Linked DNA regions of Homo sapiens: region 1 is linked to region 2. Evidence: fine-mapped expression QTL. A gene starts in region 2. The other region holds a variant in brackets. All regions are shown on one strand. Distances are from middle to middle. Region 1 overlaps DNAJB12 (DnaJ heat shock protein family (Hsp40) member B12). Region 2 holds the start of DNAJB12 (DnaJ heat shock protein family (Hsp40) member B12).

The links.
Region 1: its variant is fine-mapped to the expression of DNAJB12 in whole blood (TOPMed, PIP above 0.99).

Annotation. Positions count from the first base shown.
Region 1 is chr10:72,328,960-72,338,861 of GRCh38, reverse strand. DNAJB12 (DnaJ heat shock protein family (Hsp40) member B12) reads left to right here. Exons shown (of 9, transcript NM_017626.7): 6 at 551-660; 7 at 2,166-2,338; 8 at 2,931-3,082; 9 at 4,245-5,999. The coding sequence ends at 3,052. Among named protein-coding and RNA genes, the nearest start is that of DNAJB12, 21 kb to the left of the region's middle. RefSeq lists enhancers at 2,956-3,075, 3,636-4,045 and a silencer at 6,552-6,801. The variant CAGTG/G (reference allele first, on the strand shown) is at 5,322.
Region 2 is chr10:72,349,992-72,359,893 of GRCh38, reverse strand. DNAJB12 (DnaJ heat shock protein family (Hsp40) member B12) reads left to right here and starts at 4,975. Exons shown (of 9, transcript NM_017626.7): 1 at 4,975-5,129. The coding sequence starts at 4,997. RefSeq lists enhancers at 4,749-4,998, 5,389-5,518.

The DNA.
Region 1 (9,902 bases), 21 kb after region 2:
TCTGCACCCTAGAACCAGTGCTATTTCTAATTTTTATTTTGTTTTAATTATTATTTTTTGTAGAGATGGGGGTGTATGTTGGCCAGACTGGTCTTGAACTCCTGGCCTCACGTGTTCCTCTCATGTTGGTCTCCCAAAGTGTTGGGATTACAGGCATGAGCCGCCACACTGGCCATAATGTTTAAATTGGTAATATATTTGTGTGGTTCACATCTCAAAAACTTGTATATACTGCATGTCTCCTTCCAGCCCTGCCTTCCATTCTCCTGGAGGAAGCAACTTTTGCTGATTTTTTTTTTTTTTTGGCATTCTGTCAAAAGTAAATGCAGACACCTCACTTCCTCCTGTATTTCACACCAGTTGCTGCTTTGTTTTTATCTGGGAAAGCTGGCAGGTGAAGGAGCGTCTGTGTTTTGGAGCCTCGTGGAGGGAACGGCAGAGTGGTGTCATGTCTCCCCAGGCTCCACTATTCTAGGGGAGCTAGTGGTGATTATGGCTGACACCACACCCCACCCAGGTCCAGCAGAGTGACATTGGCTCTTCCCTCCAGGGCGGGCTAGGGGTGTTTGTGCAGCTGATGCCTATCCTCATCCTGATTCTCGTGTCAGCTCTCAGCCAGCTCATGGTCTCCAGTCCACCCTACAGTCTGAGTCCAAGACCGTGAGTACATGGGTGAGGCCGGGCCATGGGCAGACAAGGGGCTTTAAATTCTCAGCCCCATCAGGGGCCTTCTTTCCCATCCTGATCCAGCCAGTGTGCGATCATAATGCAGAAACCTGGCTTCGAATCAAGAAAATATACTTTCTCTATTCAACTAGGACTCTTAAGCTTTTTAGGATTATGGTCCCCTAAGAAATTGCAGCGAGAGCTACAGAACTTTTCCCTAAAACTATGCACACATGTGCACACACACATACACACACACGATACACATGTACACACACACACAATACATGCACACACATAATACACATGCACACATACACGCACACATATACACACAGAGTTTTGCATATAATTTCGGCGGCTTTGTGACTCTTCCCTGCCCATCTCCCCTGCCAACCCTGACGAAGAACCTCTGCTCCTCGGCTCTGGTTGGGCTTCCTGAGGCTGTGGAAAGAACAGGGCACTAGAGTCAGACAGAGCAAGCATGGCTTAGAATCCCAGCTTCTCCACTAAGAAGCTGTGTGACCCTAAACAAGTTATATAACCTTGGTTTCCTCATCTATAAAATGGGAATTATAACATCCACCTGCTGTGGAAATTAATGAGTAATGCATATAAAATGTCTGGCCCACTAGAAATGCTCAACAATATTAGTTTAATGAATGCTTAGTCTCGACTGCCAGGAGTGAACTTGAGGACATTTCATGAGCCGTTAGGGGGTCAGCTCCCCTCACTGATGTCCAGCACCTGGCCCAGGGTCAGCTACACAGTGGGTGCACATCTTCAGTGGGGTGGGTCCCCCTCTCCCAAAAGGTGGCCACCTCTGGCTGGGAGCTGGCAGGACCCTTCTCAGCCAGCAGGGGGCAGAGTCGGTCCACTGGACCCTGGCCGCCGGCTCAGGCTCCCTGTGGCCAGATGCCAGCCCTTTTCCCTGCAACTGGAGAGATGTGAGGAGCAGAGGACTAGGGCAGGGACTGTTGTCCCCAGAGCACTGGTCCTGTCTGGGTGTCAAGGCTCTTCCCACAGCTGACAGAGCCTGTGATTGGAGCTGGGAGGATAAGGCTCCCTGGAGCCCTTCCTGTCATTTTGTTCCTAAGCCTCTTAACCCTACACTGGGAACTCCTAGATAGGCAGGCAAGCACTCAGCAACAATTGGCTTAGGGGATGAATGGGGAGATGGAGGCACAGAGGCAGAGCCCAGATTCCCTCTCAGGTCTCCAGTTCCCTAGACCAGGCCTCTCCCCAAAGGCCCCAGGTCAGCAGTGTGGTAAGCAGGGATCTAAAGGCAGGGCGTCCTGCGGTCTGGGCCACGTGTGTGGGAGGACGCTGCCTTTTCCTCAGACTCTCCTTTCAGGGAGTGTGCGGGTCCCTGCTCTGGTTTGAGAGGGAACCAACTACTCCTCTGGTCTGTGCGGCACCTCCTGTCTTGGGGCCCATACCCCTAGAGTGCCCTGGGCATGGGGACCCGCACCCACTTTGAACCTGGTATTTCTGGCCAGGTCCGTGGGCCACATCCACAGGCGAGTCACTGACCACCTGGGTGTCGTCTACTATGTGGGAGACACTTTCTCCGAAGAGTACACAGGCTCCAGCCTCAAAACAGTCGAGCGGAATGTGGAAGATGATTATATCGCCAACCTCCGGAACAACTGCTGGAAGGAGAAGCAGCAGAGTGAGTGTGGGGGGAAGGCGGGGGCTGTATTTGGGAGGTGGCTTGGGATGAAGCTGGAAAGCAGGGGAAGGAGAGAGCCCTGCTCACCCTGTGCTCTGAGGGCCCAGCCCCTGGCACTGCCCTGCACCAGCCACCTCCCAGACAAGAGCTGGTCTCCACTCCTGTGTTTCTCCGGGGCTGGGAGCCAGGGGCCACCTGGTAGTTTCCTCAGGTTCCCGTAAATCACTGCCATCAGCCCAGCATGTTGGCTGCCAGAGGTGAGTGTGTAGAGATGGACTGGAGCGGATGGATCCCTGGCCACCCCCTGACTGTGCTCCTGGATCTGTCTGTGGGACCCTGGGGAGGCCTGACCAGGATGACAGGGTCTCACCTTGGCTGGCCTCACTGCATTCTAGAGAAAGGCGCCTCTGTCACCCTCGCCCACATAAGGACTGTAGTCTCTGCTCCTCCATGGTCTTCCTAATGGGAGGCCAGCCCTGCCCAAGCCCCGGGCATGTACCAGCTTTCCTCCGCCCTCCACAGCCCTCGCAGGCTTCCTTGCAGGCTTCGGGAGGTACTGGGTGTGCACTAACCCTGTCCCATTGCTTTGCAGAGGAAGGCTTGCTGTACCGGGCACGCTACTTTGGCGACACAGATATGTACCACAGAGCACAGAAGATGGGCACCCCCAGCTGCAGCCGACTGTCAGAGGTGCAGGCCTCCCTGCATGGATAGTCCTGGGCCAGCCACACCACCGAGGTCCAAGTATGAGCCAGGGCTGCCTCCACCCTGCAACTCCTGGCAGCTTTGGCCCTGGTCATGAGCAGAGGAGGGAGGGGGAGAAAGGGAGGAAGCCTGGTGATTGTGGCAAAGACTCCTGTCCCCAGCCTGACCTCCAGCCTCCAGAGACCGAGCAGCTGTGGGGCCTGCTGGGAAACCAAGGTCGGTTTCCGCCCTCTAGCGATGCTGTCCTCCCCACTCCTCCGCTCTGCTCCCTGGCTCCAGGGGTGTGGGGGACCCCAGAACCAGGCAGAGTGGGAACTTGAAACTGTTGCTGAGGGCCACCCGGGGCTTCTTGGTCCACTCCAGCCATCAGTCAGCACGGCCCTTTCTCCAGCACAGCAGACTATTGTCCGTGCCCTGGTATTTAGGCCATCACATATGGTGGGGCCCAAGAGAGCCCCATATGCACACTGCCTGCCTGATACCAGGAAGAACCATGTGGGAATAGGTGGGCCAAGAGCCCTCCCCTTTCTCCATCCCTCCAGCTAGGAGGAAATGGAGCAAGATGAACAGGCAGCCACGAGGTGGGTGGGAGCTGGCAGTCTTGGTGGCGGCAGGGGCCGCGGGCCCTGACCACCCCCCTCTGGTGGGATCTGAGGCACTCTCTCGAATGCCGTCACACCTGGCAGCCTGGAAGCCACAGGCATCCGGCCTTGCCCAGGCATCTCGCCTGCGGTCTGAGGAAGGGAACAGAAGGTCATGAGTTCAGGGTCAGACGCAGCCGCTCAGCACAGGAGGGGTGGAGGGGAAATGAGAGTTGCTGGTAGCAGGCTCCCTCCTTCTGCAGCCCGGCGAATGGGGGCGCTGGGCTCTGTTCCCAGCGTTTGCCAGAGGTGGCCACTTCAGCCAAGCCCAGAGAAGTGTGGGCAGAAGCAGTGAAGGTTCTTCTCTGTGTGGGTGCCCTGCCCACCCCCTCCTTTGCCTGTGTCCTCCCGGCCTGGATCCATGGCTGACTCTGCCTGGAGGCCATTTGTGCCTGCCTCTGTGCTGCCGCAGGAGGGCAGGCCGCAAGTGGGGTTGGTGGGGGTCGAGCGGGCAGCACGGTGCAGCGGTGCAGTGGCAAGGGGGGCTACTTGTGTGGCATAAGCTAGAGGAGCCGGTGCCGCCTGAATGCCGAGCTAACTGTTGCCACTCTCCTCCCCAGACTATGAAATCCCTGGAGAATTTTTGGTGACATGCACTGAGCCAAGGTGATGGACTGTATATTTGAGGAAAGACAAACAAAGAAACAAAATTAAAATGGAATTGGAGGCCGAACGCTGCACAGCTGCCCTCTCTCTCACCCAGTAAATGCAGAAAGCTCTTAGGACAGACAGAAAACCTGCCATGGGGCTGCTTCCCTCCCTCGCAGGGCTGGCGGAGGCTCCGCATCGCCTCTCTCCTAGGATACAGAAACCATGGCAACGAAAGTAGAATGTAAAACTCGCAGCAGATATCAGTGGGAAGGGCTGGGGGAGGGGGCACCCAGCTGCCTTTCCTCCCTCACAGGAGCCACCACCAGCCACCTCTCAGGAGAAGCCAGAGGCCCTGGCCAAAGATAGGAGGAAGAAAGAGAACTCTCCATAGAATGTAATTTATAGATGCGTGTATATGTATATATATCTATTTATATGTAAATAGGCATATATGAAGATATATATATATATAGTCTACTTTTTAAACTCTGCAGGGATTTGGTTAAGTTGTTGAGCTGATTTCTTCCATGTTTTAGAAAATGAGGCCTGTTTGGGGAAGGTACCCTGGTGATGTTTTTGCTAGACATTAGCTGTAGCTGACAGCATAAGGAGAGTCGCATCAGAGCTTTTCACAGCCCCCCGAAACCCCAGCCTGGTTTTGATGGCAGCAGTAATCATGATAGTGTGAACCCGCGAAGGCCTCAGGATTATGGTTAACCTGGAGAGGAGCAGGCCATGGAGGCAGGTGCCAGGTCAGTATTGAGTCACAGTAGAGGCCCCACAAGGACCTGCTTGGGTGAGACCACCTCTCCCCTCTCAGCAGCGCTGGTGGGCTCTTTGTCCTGGTGCCCAGGAGCCCTCCAGCCCCCTGCCCACAGAAGGGAAGGCCTGCAGAGGGGGCCAGGATCTACCTAACCATTTCCCCACCCCTAAGTCCCTCAGTGGGCTTTGCCTTATAGGTGCCACAGGGCACAGCTCCATCATTGCCACTGGTTTTTCCTAAGTCATGCACCAAGGACTTCAGAAAGTTCTTCCTCCGAGTCAGT[CAGTG/G]GTGCCGGGACCCCAGGGCAGCCTCCTCGACTCCTGAAGAAAAGGCAGTGCCCGTGGCTGCCTCTGTCTTCACTCGCTGTTGATGTGACCGCCAGGCCTCCTCTCGTACCTTGGACAAAGGATACACCTGAACCAGAATAGTTTTCTTACCCTCACATTGAAATGAGGATTTTGCTTAAAACAGCACTTGCCGCCAGTGGGAGGAGGGAGGTTTTATTTATTCCCACAGTTTCTCCTGGGCCTTCTGGAATGACCATGTTTTCCTGTGGCGGTGGGTGTGTCATTGCGCCCGCCGTCTTCCAAAGCCTTACTTCCCCAAGCTGCCAGCCAGGAGGTGATAACCACCCTCCCAGAGTTTCTCTCGGCTCTTTTTTTAAAAGTCCCCCAACAAATAGGATTCTTGCTGGGAAAGGAAGTTCGGTAAGGAAATGTCAAATCTGGTTTTTAAACAAGGTCCAACCCTGCAATGAAGCAGCCACTTCAGCCCAGAGAGATTATAAGAACTGATGTGGCCAGAGTGCCTACCCACTGTGGCCCCGGTGCTCTGCCCCCACGCCCCGACCATCTGGTCTTGGTAGATGTCCCTAGACGGGCTGAGCCATGTGCAATAAGAACATAGATCCTAAAGGATCCTCTGGAAGCTGTATTTCTTGAATTAGAATTCTCAAATTGTACATCTGTTAATATATGTTTATTATGTGACTGGCCGTGGTGGGTCTGCATTGAGCAGGGAGGCCTAAGGGGTGGGGGGGAGGGGGCACAAGCCCCTGCTGCTGCTGACACTGTCCAGCCTGTGCCACAAGGAGCTCTAGATGATGAGCCTGAATTTCCCCCGACCCCTGGCCCTGGCTAACAGCCACTTAAGCCACACATGCTGTTCCAGAACTAACTCCATCCAGGCAGAGGGGTGCTCAGGTGACTGGGGGGCTGCAGGACCTGAGCAGTCTGGGTCCCTGGGGTCCCCAGCGCCAGTCCTGGCTGGGCATCTGGGCCACGACCATCACCCTCTGCTTTTCCCTCTCCCAATCCCTCCCCCCCACACCCTCAGGCCTGCCATGTGCCCGCAGAGCATTCGAAATTCCCGGCCCCAGCCTGGAGCTCGATCCCACTCAGGAGCCAGATCCTGGGAAAAGTGTTGCGAGTTTGTTTCCATCGTCCTTCCCACCATCCTCCCCCAAACCGCCCCCGCAGCCCGCCCTCCTCTCCAGGAGGTTGAAAAAGTTTAAAATGTGGCAGCCCAAGTCGGGTCGGGCTCCTGTGAATGGAGCGGCAGATCTGCCCAGGCCTCCCAGAGACAGGGCCCGGCAGCCCTGACTGGCGGACCCAGGCCCCTCCCGCGGCTGCACCAGCCAAAGACAGGCGGGCTGCCCAGTGGTGCCACCGTGGCCCGGGAGCTCATTGGCTGCCCCTGCCCAGGGTCACCACTGCCTGCCCTGGTGTGCAAGCCGCCACTTGTTAGCTGCGGTTGGCAGAGGCGTTGCAGGCACCCCCATTCACCCACCTCATCCCCCCTGCCCTCCCTGTGTGGCTTGGCCGTGAGCCAGAGGAGGTGGGATGCACGCTCTGACTGCAGCAAAAAAGGCTTTGACAAGTGTCCCCCACCCACTGTCAGGTGGCAGAACGCGCCACTGCATCCCAGCTCCCTGGCTCCACTAGCTTATAGCCTTGTCCCTTGCTGCTCCCAGGTCCAGAGAAAAAAAAACTGCTCCAGGGACAAGGAGCACACACCCGACCTGCCTGTAACCTCATCCCCACCCCACATTGCCCAGACAAAGTCACCTGGCGTCTGGAGCAGGCACACAGCCATGCCAAGAATCAGGTAAATAGACTGTTGACATGGTTCAGAAGCAACCCAGCGTCCCTACCAGACATCACGCCATGTGACATGAGCAAGTCAGCTCATTTCCCAGAGCAGGAAACAGGCTTGGGGGAGGAAAGTGGCGCCCAGGGTCTTGAAGAAACTGTGCCTGTCTCTGGGGTCCTTGTAGCAGAGTGGTCATTCTACAAACAGTTGCTGAGCCCAAATTTGCTGCACTCAGGGAAATCAAACCCACTGGTGTCAGGTAGAGTGGGCAGAAGACCCGAGTCCAGGAGGGTGGAAAAGGATGAAAAGGCCACACTGAGGATGGTGGCACTTCATCTGATGGGCTTGGCCTAGGGAGCAGCTGCCCATTCCAGTAGGTGTCTCCTGGCAGTGACACGGGCATCCATCTGGCTGCACCAGGAAACGTCATCCCCAGGAGGCAGCCTCGCAGCCCCCACGGGGGCTGAGGCTGGATCTTTGCCATTTACTGACTGGGTGACCTTGGGTGTCCCTGAAGGAGTTCAGGAAATGCCACCCCAAAATCTGCCATTTTGGTGTGCTGATTACTTCAAACTGGGGGCACTTGAGCAACAGCAAGTGCAGGAAGGGCTTTCTCTGAAGTTGCCTCATCTGCCTAAGTTGTCCTGAACTCCCTCCTGGAAATCTTACCTACCAAGGAGGATTGACTCATTGACAACAACTGCCTATTATTCTTGGGGCTGCTCAGACAACTGTTAAGACCTGAGAGACTGACTTTTTTTTTTTTTTTGAGATGGAATCTCGCTCTGTCACCCAGGCTGGAGTGCAGTGGCGCAATCTCGGCTCACTGCAAGCTCCGCTTCCCGGGTTCACGCCATTCTCCTGCCTCAGCCTCCCGAGTAGCTGGGACTACAGGTGCCTGCCACCACGCCCGGCTAATTTTTTTGTATTTTTAGTAGAGACAGGGTTTCACTGTGTTAGCCAGGATGGTCTCGATCTCCTGACCTCGTGATCCGCCCACCTCAGCCTCCCAAAGTGCTGAGATTACAGGCATGAGCCACCATGCCTGGCCGAGACTGACTTTTTATCTGCATAACGAGACAACTTTTGCTCACCATGCAGTTCCTCCCCTCACCCTCCCAAACTTGCATTGCCATCACCCACCAGAAGCTCCCAGCCCGTTTTTTTTTTTTTTTTTTTTTTGGTTTTTTTTTTAAGGTACAAAGGTTATCCTGGACCCCAGTTCCTTTTCTGTAGCTCAAGATGTGATCTTTCTTGAAATTGCATATTTTGTGGGGCTCCCATGCCTATGTACGTAATTAAATATGATTTTTCTCCTGTTAACCACTTTATCTGTCCATGTAATTCCTAGCACAGTCAAAGACCCTAGAAGGGTGGAGGGAGCCAGTTTTTGCTTTCCTGTGTCATTTGACTGCCCTTTGCCTCAGTGTCTTCATCTGCAAAATGGGAGTGATACAAACACCTACCTCATAGGATGGTTGTGAGGAGTAAACAAGTTACCACATATAAAGCACTTAGAACAGTGCCTGGTACATGGCGAGTGCCATTTGGGTGTTTCTTGTTTGTCCTTAGTGGACAAAGATTAGCTGAGCAATGACTGGGTGTCAAGTCCCATTCCAAGCAGTGAAAGCTCCAAGGTGACTGAGACGAGGACTGCCCTTGAGTAGAAACCCTGGGAGCGGAGCAGTTGTGAAGGCTCTAGCCAGGGACTCTTGATAGAGGAACTGGCGTTTGTGAAGGAGGTGGGTACAGGCAGTACTGGGGTGGGGGTGGAGTGGGTGCTCCAGCATGAGCAGAGGCCCGGAGGCCGGAGAGTGCAGAAGTGAGCGCATTTGGGAGCAATGCCCAGGCCAGGCCCCCAGTCTGTACCTGTCATCATGCCAGGCCCACCCAGTGGCCTTGGGCAGAGAACTTTCCCAGGCATGAATGAGAGACACTGAGCTTCTCCACTCCTGGCTGCACCCTGTCCACTCAGCAATTCACTCAGCAAGCATTTCTGAACCTTTCTTGGTGGCCTGCCTGCCCTTAGGGAGGCTGCAACTAACTCTATAAGCTGAGAGAAGGCCATGTGGTGGAGGGGGTAACAGGGCAGACAGGACTGTCACTCCCGCCCCAGACCCTTGTAAGGAGATATTTCCCTAGGGACAGGGCCTGGACCTCCTGTCACTCTCACAGCCACTTGGGCATGAAATAAAGGTCCAGGGCTCAGGCAGGAAGAGGGGCAGGCGGGCAGGCGCTCTCTAGGACCCCACGGCTAGTCTGCCCAGAGCCCGGGAGTTGGGGCTTTGCTTGGGGAGGGGAGGGCCTGCCACATTTTGTCCACCTTCCCCACCCTCCTACCAATTTGGTCTAAACAAAGTCCCTAGGGAGGGAGGGCAGGGCTGCTCCCTGGCTGGATTTTTCCTTGAGGAGGCAGGGTGCAGCTCCCCACTGGAGCCCGTGCTAGTCAGAGCAGGGATCAGGCTAGGGCCTGCAGGGACCCCAGCTGGCAGTCCCACTACCTCGACTGGATTATTCTCATTTTCCTGATGGACTCAGATGAGGAGGCCTGAGAGACAGGTGCCTGGCAGCACAGGAGGATGCAGCGGGCTCCTTCAGATGGAGAAAGTGGGGCCAGAATGGAGCTGGCCAGGCCCGGCCTCATTCCCCCACACTGACAGCCCAAAACCTCCCCTGCACTCCTCCTGGCCCCACATACTGTGCAGGGCCCTCCCACCCTGACTGCAGCCTGCGGAGCCCCTCCCTCCACCGTGGAGCCCTGCTACCCGGGTTC
Region 2 (9,902 bases):
AAGACCAGGGACTATAATGTTTAACATGACCTGAGCAAGGCGGGGTGTCTCTCTTTCCTGGCCTTTGGACTGAGAGGGACAAATAAAAAGTCAAATTAGCCTCAGGACCAAAAGCAAGACATCCAGTGTGACTCAGATTTGTAAGAAAGGCAGGGGCTCCTTAGACCAGCCTTCAGGGTCAGTTCATAATCCCTTCTGAAACAGCACAGCCTTTCTGAAAACAAACAGCTTAGGGAGGCCCTGTGTGGCGGCTCACACCTATAATCCCAGCACTTTGGGAGGCTGAGCTGGGCATATTACTGGAAGTTAGGAGTTCGAGACCAGCCTGGCCAACATGGTAAAACCCCTACTTTTTGCATTTTGTTAATCTCCACTTTTTGTATTTTGTGAAAATACAAAAATTATCCAGGCATGGAGATGCATGCCTATAATCTGAGCTACTCAGGAGGCTGAGGCATGAGAATCGCTTGAACCTGGGAGGCAGAGGTTGCAGTGAGCTGAGATCATGCCACTGCACTTCAGTCTGGGCAACAGAGTGAGAATCCATCTCAAAAAAAAAAAAAAAAAAAAAAGCAAAAGGAAACAGTGGCCGGGCACGGTGGCTTATGCTTGTAATCCCAGCAATTTGGGAGGCCGAGGCGGGCAGATCACCTGAGGTCAGGAGTTCCAGACCAGCCTGACCAACAAGGTGAAACCCCATCTCTACTAAAAATACAAAAATTAGCCAGGCTTGGTGGCATGTGGCTGTAGTCCCAGCTACTCGGGAGGCTGAGACAGGAGAATTGCTTGAACCTGGGAGGCAGAGGTTGCAGTGAGCCAAGATCGCGCCACTGCACTCCAGCCTGGGCGATGGAGCAAGACTTTGTCTCAAAAAAAAAAAAAAAGAAAAAGAAAGAAACAGCTTAGGGACCAAGATGAGCAGCAGAGGGGGGCAAGGAGAAGAATGCAAAAATAAGGCATAAAGGGCCCCTACCACAAGCAGCCCGCTTCTCCACATCGTTACTGATCTGGACCCTGCCAATCAAGCCAAAGCACTGACCCACAATTTAAATAGGACTTTGTCATTTTATATGAATTGTAGGAAAAGAGAAGGGCTCACCCGTCAGTAGTTGGCCAGTCACAATCCAGTTCCCTAACACAAGAAAATGACAGACTTTCTTTTCTACTTGATTGCCTTCTTCACAGTGTGAAGTAGAGTCATGCACCACATCATAACATTTTGGCCAACTACAGACAGCATATATGACAATGGTCCCTTAAGATTATAATGGAGCTGAAAAAGTCCTATTGCCTAGTGACATTCATAGCCATCATAAGGTCATAGCACAATGCATTACCTTTTCTATGTTTAGATACACAAATACTTCCCATTGTATTCGGTATGGTAATGTTCTGTACAGGTATGTAACCTAGAAGCAACAGGTCATACCTTAAACCCTAGGTGTGTAGCAGGCTATACCAACTTAGGTTTGTATAAGGACTCTATGATGTTCGCACAGTGATAAAATCACCTAACAACACTTTTCTCAGAACATATCCCTGTCATTAAGTGACACATGACTGTATCTTGTAGTCAGCAGGAGAAGACAGGCCTCATGATAGGAAATGGAAGAGGATACTTCATGATTCTTAGCAGGAGACAGGAAGATGGAAATTGTCGTGCTAGGTCAACAAACCTCAGAGAGGCTGTTTGAAAAGGATCCCAGCATTTATCCATGGACACATTAGGGACCTATCAATTTGTAGAGAACTTAAATTTCTCCAAGTGTAGGACTGTCTTATCAAGGAGGGTCTGTACCAGGCCAGCATGGAGTCGTAAGGGTTTGCATTGGAAAGGGAAAAATGGGAATGGAAAGGAAGGTTGGATGTGAAAGAATTTTCCAAGGAGCATGTATAGCTGAGGAGGCCATGACCTTGCTTCTTTCTTATGTGTGTATTTATTTATTGAGACAGGGTCTGACTCTGTGCCCAGGCTAGAGTGTAGTGGGGCAACCATGGCTCCCTGCAGCCTCGACCTCCCAGGCTCATAATCCTCCTGGGTAGCTGGGAGTACAGGCGCATGCCACCACACCTGGCTAATTTTTGTAATTTTTTTTAGTAGAGATAGGGTTTCACCATGTTGGCCAGGCTGGTCTTGAACTCCTGACCTCAGGTGATCCACCCACCTCACCCTCCCAAAGTGCTGAGATTACAGGTTTGAGCCACTGCGCCCAGCCACCTTTACTCTCTTGAATCCATTCCTGTTGGGTTTTCACCCCTACCACACACTAAAAGCCATTTTATGGTCAGGCACAGTGGCTCACACCTGTAATCCCAGCACTTTGGGAGGTTGAGGTGAGAGGATCACTTGAGCCTAGAAGTTTGAGACCAGCCTAGGCAACACAGTGAGACCCCATCTCTAAAAAAAAACTTAAAAAAAAAACTAGCCAGGTGTGGTGGAGCACTCCTGTAGTCCCAGCTATTCAGGAGGCGGAGGTGGGAGGATTGCTTGAGCCCAGAAAGTTGAGGCTGCAGTGAGCCATAACTGTGCCACTGCACTCCAGTCTGGGTAACAGTGAGACCCTGTCTCAAAAAAATAAAATGAAATAGATAAAAGCAATTTTGTCAAAGTCAACACTGCCCTCTACACTGCCAAATCCATTGGTCATTTCTCAGGCCTCACATTGCTTGGCCTCTCCACAGGATATGACGTTTGACCCCCCCTCCCTCCTTTTCTAAAAAAACTGTTTGTAGAGACCGTGAGGGGGGGCGGTCTCATTATGTTGCCCAGGCTGGTCTTGAACTCCTGGGCTAAAGCGAGCCTCCCACCTCAGCCTCCCCAAGTGCTGGGATTACAGGCATGAGCCACCATACCTGACCTACTCATTTCCTTACAACCTGCTTCTTCACATTCTCCTTTACTGGATTTTCTTCCTCTTCCAGATCTTTAAATGTTGGGATTTCGTGAGGCTCAGTAATCAGACTTCTCTGCTCTTCTCCATCTACACTCACTTCCTTGGTGCATATATATATATATATATATATATATATATATATATATATATATATATATATATATATATATCACAGCTCACTGCAGCCTTGACCTCCCATGCTCAAGTGATCCTCCCACCTCAGCCTCCTGAGTAGCTGGGACTACAGGCGTGTACTACCACACCCAGCTAATTTTTTATTTTTTTGTAGTGATGGGATCTCACTCTGTTGCCCAGGCTGGTCTCAAACTCCTTGCCTCAAGTGATCCTCCCACCCCTGGCCTCCCAAAATGTTGGGATTATAGGAGTGAGCCACTGTGCCTGGCCCCAAAGTTATATTTCCAGGTCCTTTTTGCCTAAACCCTACGTATGTACAACATCCTAGTCTGTATCTCTGCTTGATTCTAAAAAGCATCATAAACTGAATCAAACCCTTAATATTCCCCCACCAAACTGCTTTTGTAGTCTTTTCCATTTCCTTGTTTTAGTAAATAGAAATTCTCTTCTTCCAGTTATCAAGCCAAAAACATTGGAATCATCCTTGAATCTTCTTTCTCTCACAGCCCACATCCATTGCGTCATTCTGTCTTCAAAATATATCCAGAATTTTACTACTACTCACCACCTCCGCCATCACCCTTATCCAAGTTACCATTAATTTTCACCTGTATTATAATAGTAGCTTCCTGACTCTCATCCGGATTACTGTAGTAGCATCTTACCAAATCCTGCCTGAAAGGCCAAGCAATGTAAGGGCTGACAGATGACTCGGGGATTCGGCAACGTGGAGGTCACTGGCAACCTTCACAAGATTGCTTTCACTGGAGTGATAGCCCTCGAAGAACGGGATAATGATAGAACTGGATTACACTCTGTAGTAGAATCTTTTTTTTTTCTTCTTTTTTTTTAGATGGCGTTTCACTCTTGTTGCCCAGGCTGGAGTGCAATGGTGTGATCTTGGCTCACCGCAACCTCCACCTCCCAGGTTCAAGCGATTCTCCCGCCTCAGCCTCCCGAGTAGGTGGGATTACAGGCCATGTGCCACCATGCCCGGCTAATTTTGTATTTTTAGTAGAGACGGGGTTTCTCCATGTTGGTCAGGCTGGTCTCGAACTCCTGACCTCAAGTGATCCGCCCGCCTCGGCCTCTCAAAGTGCTGGGATTACAGGCGTGAGCCACCGCGCCCAGCCTGTAGTAGAATCTTTACGCTCCCTAGAATGTATTCGCCTTCCTGATCTGTTATAACTCACCAAGAGAATTCCCTTTTCAGAGCCTTTGCACTTGCTGTTCCTTCGGCCTGACCACCCTTCCTCCAGACAGTCACATCTACCTGTTATCGTTCCTGAATTCTGGTACCTGTTAATGACAGCTTCTGAGAGGTTTCTTTTATCGCGCTATTTAAAATAGCGCCTCCCACTCTCTATCCCTGTGTTTTCCATAATTTTTCTTCAGAGCTTTTATCACTATCTGAATCTATCTGGAGCTCCCCCAGCCTACACACACTGGAATGTAAGCTCCATGAGAGCAGGAGCTTTGTTTTGCTCACCCCTGTATCCCCATCATAAAACCATGCCTCACAAACAGTGGGCACTCAATATCTGTTCAGTGAATAAATAACCTTTGTCTGAAACGTATGTAGTTACATTACGTATATAGATCACCACTTAGTAAACCGTCTGGGAATAACAGGCACTCCGAAGGCCCCAGTCTCATCCCGACGGCTACCACGTGACCTTCCTGAGCTTGGGTTTCCTCCTCCGGAAGATTAGAGGGTTGGCGCATACTCAACTCTAAGACCTCCGGAACATGGAATCTGGGCGTGCACCATTATTGACACCTACACCAGCCGTCCCTTTCTTAGAAGACATACGGTAGCACTTCCACCCTCGCTCAAAACTCGGGAAAGGAGGGGCGGAGGGTGGATGTCATCACTCCGCGCCCGGCTGCCCGCGACGCGCCGGCGGGTGGCGCAGCCCTTCGCTCGCCCGGCCTCCCCCTCCCTGGTTCCGCGTTCTGGTTCCGCCATGGAATCCAACAAGGATGAAGCTGAGCGCTGTATCAGCATCGCCCTCAAGGCCATCCAGAGCAACCAGCCCGACCGGGCGCTCCGCTTCCTGGAGAAGGCACAGCGGCTGTATCCGACGCCGCGAGTTCGCGGTGAGTGTGAGGTGCCGGAGAGACTGGGGACATTAGAACTGATGGGGGGAACACGGGAACGGACCGACGGGAGCAGTTGGGGGAGGGGGAGGGGTGGCGAGGCGCGGCTACGCCTGCGCACTGAGGCGCGCGGTGGCTGCTGGGAGGCGTAGTTTTTCCCTCTTGTTCCTCTGCGGGATGCGAGCCGTCTGGAGACTCGGGCGGCCGGGACTTCAGCTTTCGGGGTGCTGGCGGAGCCCGCTGGGGTTTGAGGTCTCCGAGAATGAAACGCGCTGGCAGCCGGGACGAAGGGAACTTACCTGGAAGTGAACTCGAACTACTTTTCCCAAGGGGCCGTTCGGTAGCCCAGGCCAGTCGCCGGCCTGGGAAATATTACAGTTCAGGAAAATAAACATAACTCCTTTAAGGGAGAGAATGGGCGCTAGACAGGGAGACATTTCTGTTCTTCGGGCGCCAGGGAAAGGCGCTTCCGTATCTTCACTCCCTCTCACCTCTCGGGCTGAGGGTCAGGGACCACTCTCCCAAAATGCAAGCCGGCCTTTGCACCCACCCCAGTCCGCCGCCTCGGACTGTCCTGAAGCCGGGCCCCTCACTCCTCCCGATGATGAGATTCGGAGCGGGTGGCCTGGTGGGAGGTGCTGACCTCAGCCACCGCCAGTCCTCCATCGCCCGCAAGAGTCCAGCGGCGGTCAGCCATGTGGACGCCGAGGCTGCTGAGTTGCCCTGGACAGGAGCCTCCTGAGCCAGGGAGGGAAGAGTGAAGCTGGCTTTACAACTCATCACCTCGCTTCACCCGGGAACCCTTTCTTTTTTCTTTAACCTAAGTTTTCCAAGGAGTTTTTCTTAATCCACGCTAGAGGGGAGAGAGACACCGGGTGGTGCTTGTGATCACCACTCAGTAAACCGTCTGGGAATAACAGGCACTCCGAAGGGCCCAGTCTCATCCTGACGGCTACCACGTGACCTTCCTGAGCTTGGGTTTCCTCCTCGGGAAGATTAGAGGGTTGGCGCAGATAATGTGATTGGCAATAATACCCATAGGGCTTTGCAGTTTAGGAAGCTCCTTCACCTGTGCCTTCTCACTTGAGCCTGCCAGTCAGGGATGCAGAGCAAAGATCATTATCTTTATTCTATGGGTGAGGAAAATCTCTGAGGTAAGGGATGCCCAGGATGACACAGCTAGAAAGTAAAATGTTCTGTGACTCTGTAAATGTTTATGAAGGAAAAGAAATGAAATTGAGGAACAGCAGTCAGCCTCCTAACCGGCCCTGCCCGCCTGATGAGATTGAGAAAGCGGAACGCTGGTGGAAGAGGTAGCCTGGACTGCTGAACTTTCCTCCCTCCGGACTCTTGCAGGTTGATCTTTGGCCTGTTTGCCTCCCCTTGGAGAGGGTTTCGGGCTGTATTTGCCAGGACACCTGAGGTAACCTGCTCGAGGAGCCTCCCTGTGAATTAATTCATATTCTGTGGTGGGGTGGTATCCTCCAGCTGTCAGAATTCTGCCTGACACTGATGCTGCTGCGGGCTCAGGAGCAGGCAGCCAAGAAAGGATGGGCCACAGGGCCTCTGGGGATCTTTCTGTCAGCAGGCCCCTGCACCAGTTCAGGAGCTTGAAGGAGTGTCCTCTCTGGGGCTCAGGCTCTGGAATTTGCTGAGACAGAAGAACCACCTGCATGCATATTTGTCATATTTGTGCTTTTCTGGAAAGACTATGAGACTATACGCCTTATGCATCCGTGTAAACTTTACCATCTGCAGCCCTCCACTGAGCTGACAAAGACCTGGGATTAGTTTAGGTCTGGGACAGGGAAAGATCTTACTTCAAAAATAGAGGGCAGGGCTACCCACTGGGCTGGCTACCTGCCTCCCCAGGGGGAGTAATACAGATATATTAGGTGGCGGTCTATTGCTTTGGGTTTAGGCTCATCCCAGATGCTCATTCAATGCAGCAGACTTTTGTTGAAGATCATTTATGTTTTGTTTGCAAAGTCCTCTGCTTGGTGCTAGCAAGATTGGTAAAATGTGATCCCTCACCTCAAAAGAGCTTATAATCTAGTGAAAGAGACAAAACTTACAGAAACAAATATTACAAGACAGAACTGTAATTAAACAAAAAATAAACCCAAGGTTAGACGCTGAGGACTTAAGGACAGGCATGAAAAAATCAGGCCCCATCATCCATGGGTTCACAGTCTGATGGTGGGGAGGAGGTGCGGAGGACAATCTCCTGAACATTAAATTATCAGCAGTTTAGTGAGTGCTGTAGCAAGTGCATAAAAATAATGTTATCTCACAGTGAGGGAATGCTTTGGGGATGACAGGAGTTAACATTTGAATTGTGCTTTGGAGGACGGTGTGAGACTTGAGGAAAGGCATCCTGGAAGAAGACAAAGGAGCTGAAAGTTGTAACGTTTGGGGGAAGAGATCAAAGTGTAGCAAGATTTAGAGGCAGTGGAGGTGGTAATTCGTATACAGAGAGGATTAAGTTTGGGAAATAAAATGGGGCCAGATCATAGAAATCCTTTTCTACCAGGCCAAGATATTTTCACCTTATTCTGTAGTTAGTGAGGAAACCATTGAGGTTTTTGATAGCAGGAATAAAGTACGGGCACTGTTGTTAAAAGAGAACAGCATGAAAGGTTAATGAGAGGGAAGAGAGCTTCAGGGCAGGAAGCCAATAGGAGAGAATTGCCTTGAGCTGGTTGGATATTCTGAGGGCCTGGGACAAGGCAGTCATGGATAAGGCTAAGGTCCCTGGAAAAGAGGCACCAGGCCTGTGTGAGAGAGAGGTGCAGAGGAGAATCAGATGGGATGCTGGGGAATCAGAATTGAAGCCCCTGTGACCAGGAAGAAACCAGGCTGAAGAACTGAGATGGGAAGAGATGAGCAGAGTGGGAGGTGCCAGTGGGATAGTCCAAAGGAGCTGTCAGCCTGGAACTCAGGAGAGCGCTCCAGGTTACAGGTGAAAGTGTGGTATCGTCTGTTCCCTGGAGCTCACTGGAGTTGTGCATGGCTGAGGTCACTGTGGGAAAGTATAGACCATGGAGAGAAAGTTGCTGCAGGCACAATGGCAGGCAACACCTGCCCTGAGCCCACAGGCAAAGGCAGAGGAAGCAACAGATTGAGATGGAGCAACAGGAAAAGGCAGTCCCCGGAGAGGGCAGCGGCCAGGTAGCCATGGAGAGGTAATGGCAGCAGGTGGTGAGCAGCCCTGTGTGATGCCGCAGGCACTGCATGGGAAAAGGACAAGTTAAGAGTTGAAAAGGGAAGGATCGAGAGCATGGGCAGAGGATGGTCTTGGAGAGGTGGAAGGGCAGAGAGGGGAGAGTCACGAGAGAGGGGAGGCTCAGAGCAACCTTGAAAGGATGAGGGACCTCACACTGTTGGCCTTTGCAGCAAAAAGGGATGTGAGGGGGCTTGAAACTCCTGCTGCAGGAGGTGGGACAAGGAGGCACTGAGTTAAACTGCAAAGCAGTAGCTGGGCCCTAAGCTGGGAGGTCACAGACTAGAGATGGTGGAGCCAGTCAGTCCCTTTCTGGGAGTTTCTGTCCAGTAGCTGGCAGCCTGGTAAGCCATTGGCTTTGACTCAGGCTTTGTAACAAATGTGGAAGGTGCCAGATTTCCCAGGGAGCTCACGAGAGCATTTGTAGGCCTCAGTTTCCCCAGCATACAAAGAGAGGATTGGCTGGGATGATCCTGAGGTTCCTTGCAGCTCAGGCTATCCAATGTTCTGTGAAATGGTTGACTCTGGGCTAAGTCATGAAGGCCAAGCTGGGAAGGCCAGCCCACAGGAAAAGGAGACGGATTGCTGAGGGATTCTGCATTCAGAGTCCAGGAGTGAGAGATGTTCTGGTGCTGGCGAGGTCCGGGGTGGGGTTGTACCCTTCAAGTCAGTCAACCTTCATGAGCCCCACTGTGCACTTAGCCCCCTTCCATTCACTGTATTTCACAGAATCTTATTTACCCCTCAGAGCACTCCTATGAGAGCAGAGATCGTCTCTCCACTCAGGAACCAGCTAACCTGGCAAGGCCACATGGCTAGCCAGCAAAGACCCAGAGCTGTCCATCTCCAATCCCAGGCCCTTTTCTGACTCACTGTGAGCACCGTAGGTACACAGAGCCCAGAAACTCAGCTACTCACTTACTAACAAAGTCACGGTCAGAGACAACACTGTATATTTGCTGGGCATTGGGCTGAGTTTTTTGCTGGCATTCACTCATTTCCTCTTTTAGCCTGTATGATGGAGATAGAGTTTTGCACAGATGAGCTAAGTTACCTTGTCCAAGATGACCCTTCTAGCAAATGGCAGAGCTAGGTTTGAACCCATCGGGCAGTCTTTTTTTTTTTTTTTTTTTTTTTTTTTTTGAGACAGGGTCTCACTCTGTTGCCCAGGCTGGAGTGCAGTGGCACAATCACAGCTCACTGCAGCCTCAACCACCCAGGCCCAAGTGATCCTCCCACCTTAGCCTACCAAACAGCCGGGACCACAGGCATGTGCCACCACACCTGGCTAATTTTTTTATTTTCGTAGAGACAGGGTCTTCCTGTGTTGCCAAGGCTGGTCTCGAACTCCTGAGCTCAATCCATTCTCCTGCCTTGGCCTCCTAAAGTGCTGAGATGACAGGTGTGAGCCACTGCCCGGCCAAATCTAACTCTAGTCTGGGTTCAGTGGCTTTGGCCATAGAAATCCTCTCAGCTCTACCTCAGGTGCCTCTCCACCGCAGCTCTGTTCTCTTCTATCGAATTCCCTTCCTTTTCTAAGTCTGCCAGCT